2 separate regions of the Homo sapiens genome follow, and region 2 is linked to region 1. The links come from fine-mapping of genetic effects on gene expression. Tissue or cell type: tibial nerve. Region 1 holds a variant in brackets; the other region holds the start of a gene. All regions are shown on one strand. Distances are from middle to middle.

Evidence for each region. PIP is the estimated chance that this variant, and not a neighbour inherited with it, causes the effect.
Region 2: it holds the start of PLXDC2, and the variant in region 1 is fine-mapped to the expression of PLXDC2 in tibial nerve (GTEx, PIP above 0.99).

Annotation. Positions count from the first base shown.
Region 1 is chr10:19,781,808-19,784,573 of GRCh38, forward strand. No RefSeq gene overlaps it. Among named protein-coding and RNA genes, the nearest start is that of PLXDC2, 33 kb to the right of the region's middle. The variant T/C (reference allele first, on the strand shown) is at 1,121.
Region 2 is chr10:19,814,932-19,817,697 of GRCh38, forward strand. It overlaps PLXDC2 (plexin domain containing 2), which reads left to right and starts at 1,501. Exons shown (of 14, transcript NM_032812.9): 1 at 1,501-2,260. The coding sequence starts at 2,149. LOC124902388 (a long non-coding RNA gene) reads right to left here and starts at 1,297. Exons shown (of 2, transcript XR_007062078.1): 1 at 1-1,297. RefSeq lists an enhancer at 425-1,190.

The DNA of each region.
Region 1 (2,766 bases):
TATGTTAGTTACTGTCCTTTGTAAATGAAATAATATGTATTCTTTTGTATCTTGCTTTTTGTTTAACATTATATTTGTGAAATTCATTCATCTTGTGGCATTTTGCAGCAGTTTTCATTGTGAATGAATATGCCAAAAATTACTTATCCATTCTATTTGTTCATGGGCATTTTGGCCTGTTTCTAATTTGAAGTTATAGAAAGAGTGCTGTTTTAAATATTCTTGGACTTGCCTTGTGGTAAACATATGTATGCATTTTTTGCTAGATATTTATCTAAGAAAAGAAGTGCTACGTTTTCAGATGAACGTATGCTTAGCTTTAATACAAAAGGGTCACATCATGTAGTCTCAAACACCTTTATAGAAATCTCACATGATACTTCTGAGTATGTGTATCTCATTGTCCATAACCCAGCTGAAGGCCACATACCTAGCTTCAAGAAAGGGAAGGCAGCAATGGATTTTGGCTGGATCCATTCCCATCCTTAATAAAATCTGAATTCTGACACCAAGAAAGAAAGGGAGTATTGGTAATGCATGAAAAGCACAGGTCTCTGCCACACTAACTCTCCGTCAGCCCTTGCCATCTCAGGAAACAGAACTCTTGTCCACTTTGTGTTCCAGTAAAATATCCCAGGATCATTCTTCTCTCCTCCTACCCCCTTCCAGTCTATCAGCAAGTCTTCTTAGTTCTATTTCCCAAATACATCTTGACTGTATCATCTTCTCTCCTCCTCTGCTATCCCCTTAACATAAGCCACATCATCTCTTAGATAGACGCACTATTGCAGCTGCTTCCTGTTGGAGCTCTTTTGATCCAGTTTTGCTCCCCCACCATCCTTATAGCAATCAGTGTGGTTTGGTTTGGTTTTGCCTTCCTGTTTGGGGGGTTTATTTCCTTCCAATAACGCGACATTAGTTCCCTATCTAAAAGCTTTCAATGGCTTCCTTTTGTACTTAACAGTAAAAATTCAACTTCCTAACACTGGCCCTCGTGAACATCTACATGTTCATTCCATTCTCATCCTCTGCTTCAGCTACAAAAGCTTCACATACATCAAATTCTTTCCCACTTCGTGATCTTTGCCCCAGAACATACTGCTTCCAAGTTTTATGGTTT[T/C]GTTTGCTCATTTTGTTTGCAGTTTGTCTCCCACCATGGGAACGTAGGCATTGTGAATGTAGGGCTTGTCTGAGCTCTGTACCCAAAGGGACCAGCCTAAACCCTTGTGGTGGTGAACAATGTTGAATGAACAAATGCATCTCTTATTTGTGAACCTATGAACAATTTTGATTTCTTATTATGGCTTATACTCTATTCTAAATATTCTCAATATTCTTTAGCAAACATGGATTGCTCTTGAATGTTAAAAAGGTTTAATTTAGTGACTACGTTAAATAATTTGCCGTGTATAATTTTTAAGTCTGAAGTTAATTAATTAGTAATGTCAACTAATATTTTGCAGCAGCACCTAGAATACTTAATATATAGTGTAGGAACATCAGGTAACAAACAAATCAACCCACATTATAACTTCGAGGAACTTGTGATTCTGAAATGAGAGCTAAGAAATAAACATAGCTATCTATATTCTAATCCAGACTTTTTAAGTTCTAGAAAAGGTACATAAGTTAAACGTGAGTGATTACTATATAATTTTTTCTCATTAAATGTTGTTATAATGGGTCTCAAAATTCTGTGGCAGATTTTTGATCAAGTTGTTTCCATTAAAAATTACTCACTTTAAAAGCTAATAACTTAAAACTGCCCCATGCAGAAAAGGCCAAAATAGTCCACAAAACATTCTTCTTTTCTTCTAAAGGTTTTATGGTGCGTTGTTATCATTACCCAGTTTTTTACTATTAAACTTAAATGGCCAATTGAAACAAAGAGTTCTGAGACTATTCTTGTACCACTTATTAAGACTGTGATGGCAGGTGTTACGGATAATTTCATTTAGCCACACAATATGGTTTGGATTTGTGTCCCTGCCCAAATCTCCTGTGGAATTGGAGGAGGGGCCTGGTGGGAGGTGACTGGATCATGGAGGTGGATTTCCTCCTTGCCGTTCTTGTGCTAGTGAGCGTCCCTTGTGCAGCTGTTATGTAAAGTAACATAACAATTCCATTCAGGTATTGGAATGTTAATACCATTCAGGTATTCAAGGCGATACCATTCAGTACATAGGAATAAGCAAAGATTTCCTGATGAAGATGCCAAAAATTATCTCAGCAAAAGCAAAAATTCAAATTGTTGCTTGATCTTACAGCAAATATTTCTCCATCTTATTTCATGTTTTGTCATTATTTACCCTAAAAGCAAATCTAACATAAAAATAAGAAAAGAATTAAAAAAAAAAACATAAAAACAAATAACAAAGAAAAACACCACTCTCTGAAGCAAGTTCCCAAGTATGCCTGCAATTGCTGTCTAGATACTAGGAAGGTATTTTCCAGCACTTGGTCTGACTCCGCAATGCTGTTCAGCTTACTTCAGGGAAAATGAGCAGCTTATTTGATATATGCTGGATTAATCTGCCTTTTCTACAGGATAACATCCTCAGGGAAAGGCACCATTCAGAAATCAAAGCTGAAAAACTTTAAGACTTCCAAAGAACACTAGAGATACGGTATAACTGAAGTTAAAAAGAAACATTTAATAGCCTTAGTTTATCTTAAAAAATAAATGCCTCATGACATTGAAAGATGTTTAGTAAGCTGTTTATTGAAAAGAACCAAGATAAATATTATGTATAGTGTGACAAAGTC
Region 2 (2,766 bases), 33 kb after region 1:
TTGATTATCCGGATCCACTTCCAGTGGGTTTTGTGGCAAGCCGAGACATCTATTGACAGCATCCATAGACTCTTCAGAGCTTGGAGTGGAAAGGACCTTGAACTTAGAACACATGCACATTTATTATGTGATTGAAGTCGTCTTCTCTCACTTTTGCTTCAGTAAACACTTAAACAAAGCCATGTACTTTGCGGTAGGCAATGTTCTATATTTATTAAATATACAGTTAACTCATCCAATCCATTGCAACCACCTTATAAGGGCGTTACTCTAATTCTCTCCATTTGATGGATGGATAACTGAGGCTAGGAGATAAACTGCTCATTGCGGGGGAGGTGAAATTCCAGCCCAGGCTGTCCGGGCTCTAGATCCTGTACTTTTAACCAATAGCGCTTTGCTTCTTTTCCTTGTATTTATCCCTTTCAAAAATGATTAACTGTATGCAAAATAAGATATCAACTAACGAGAGGGCCGGCAAGGGTTAACGCGGAAACAGATCCCCGAGCTGAAAAAACAAAAACAAACTGGGGAGCCAGAGCCCCTGAAAGCTCCGGTAGGAAATTCAATGGGCCTCCTGTTCCTTTAAACTCTCGCTTTCGCCCCCGCTGACACTTTGCAAAGCCGCGGCGGCAGCGGCGGGGACCACGCTGCGGTGCACCACCTTCCGCCACCCTCCCGCGCTGGGCTGGGGTCGAGGGGGCTTCGCAGAGTCGGTAACCGAACCGGCTCTGGTTTGCTTTCTCCACTCCCTAGCCACTACCAGAACCAGCCTCCGCGAAGGGGCGAGCTGTGGTTAACCCTTTCGTGCCCAGGGAGACCCCGCCAGGGTCGGGGCGGGGCGCGATCGCCCCCCGCAGTCGGGCGCGAAGGCGGCCCGGGAGCCAGGTGGGTGTGGGGCGCAGTTGGCGGAGCTGCCCAGGGCGTGCGAGCAGGCTGCGAGGATGGCGCCCCGGCGGCGCGGAGGTACCGCCCCGCGCTCCCCCGATAGCTCCCCGGCCTGTCCCCTCTCCCCGCGCTCTGGGGCAGCCGGCTGCCTGGGGCGCACGGGGCTGGAGTGGCCCTCTCCCTCCCCTTCGCTAGGCTCCCCCGGCTTAATCTGTTGGCCGCGACTCCTCAGCCAGCCCCGAGGAAAGTGCAGCCATTGGACAGGTCTGTGCGGGCTGCCGGTTTCAGGGAGGAAGGTGGGAGAAGCCTGGAGGAGCGAAGGGGAGGGCGGAGGGAGGAGGGAGGAGGGTGCGGCGGCAGATCTGGCAAATTGCGAGCTGCCTTCCCTCCTCAAAGTGTGGAGAAGGAGCGCGGGGGAGCGTGGCGACGGCAGCGCCTCCTCCGCCACCAAACTCCTGGGGCTCCGCGGGGGCTTGGGGCCACCTCCTCCTGAGCCCGGAGGAACCCTCTCCCGATAGGTTCCAGCGTGACTCCCTCCCACTCCACCCTTTTCCTTTCTTCTTCCTCTTTTTTTTTTTTTTTTTTAAACACATTTTTTTCCTGGCTTCGGACCTCAGACTGCTGCAGCCCTAACCTTCCCAGGGCTCAGCTCTTTGGAGCTGCCCATTCCTCCGGCTGCGAGAAAGGACGCGCGCCCTGCGTCGGGCGAAGAAAAGAAGCAAAACTTGTCGGGAGGGTTTCGTCATCAACCTCCTTCCCGCAAACCTAAACCTCCTGCCGGGGCCATCCCTAGACAGAGGAAAGTTCCTGCAGAGCCGACCAGCCCTAGTGGATCTGGGGCAGGCAGCGGCGCTGGCTGTGGAATTAGATCTGTTTTGAACCCAGTGGAGCGCATCGCTGGGGCTCGGAAGTCACCGTCCGCGGGCACCGGGTTGGCGCTGCCCGAGTGGAACCGACAGTTTGCGAGCCTCGGCTGCAAGTGGCCTCTCCTCCCCGCGGTTGTTGTTCAGTGTCGGGTGAGGGCTGCGAGTGTGGCAAGTTGCAAAGAGAGCCTCAGAGGTCCGAAGAGCGCTGCGCTCCTACTCGCGTTCGCTTCTTCCTCTTCTCGGTTCCCTACTGTGAAATCGCAGCGACATTTACAAAGGCCTCCGGGTCCTACCGAGACCGATCCGCAGCGTTTGGCCCGGTCGTGCCTATTGCATCGGGAGCCCCCGAGCACCGGCGAAGGACTGGCGGGTGGGGTAGGGAGGTGGCGGCGGCGGCATGGCGAGGTTCCCGAAGGCCGACCTGGCCGCTGCAGGAGTTATGTTACTTTGCCACTTCTTCACGGACCAGTTTCAGTTCGCCGATGGGAAACCCGGAGACCAAATCCTTGGTAAGTAAGATGCACTTTAGCTTGCTGATTTTGTGCGCAGCTGAAGACCTCTCTGGCACTCTCGTGCTCCCTACCCTCTCCCCCCAACATCACCTATCTGCCCTTGGGAAACTTATTGCAGTTGCTTTTCGGCTAAACTTAGGCTTCCCAAATGGGGAAAGAGGGTTATCAAGAGAAGGACGCCGGGGACTAGGGGTTTTCTTGAGGCTTTCGGGCTTACTTCACCTGGGCGGCAGGGGGTGGTACTGTCTCCCCAAAGTAGCCCAGGGAGGGCTTCAGTGTGAGAGCAAAGCTTCTTCCGTGGATACATCTCCTAGGACCTGGCATCTCCAGGCTGTGTGCTCTCCGGCTCCTCCTCCTTCCTCGCTGCTGGTTAAACTAAGCGTGTGTGGTATGGGGTGGGTGGGGGACGTTGTGAAAGCCAGGGATTGCAGGTCTCCCCTCTGCACGAGAAAATTCCCTGTGGCAGCACCTTCCTTCCCCTGGCGATCCCCACTAGCTCCGTC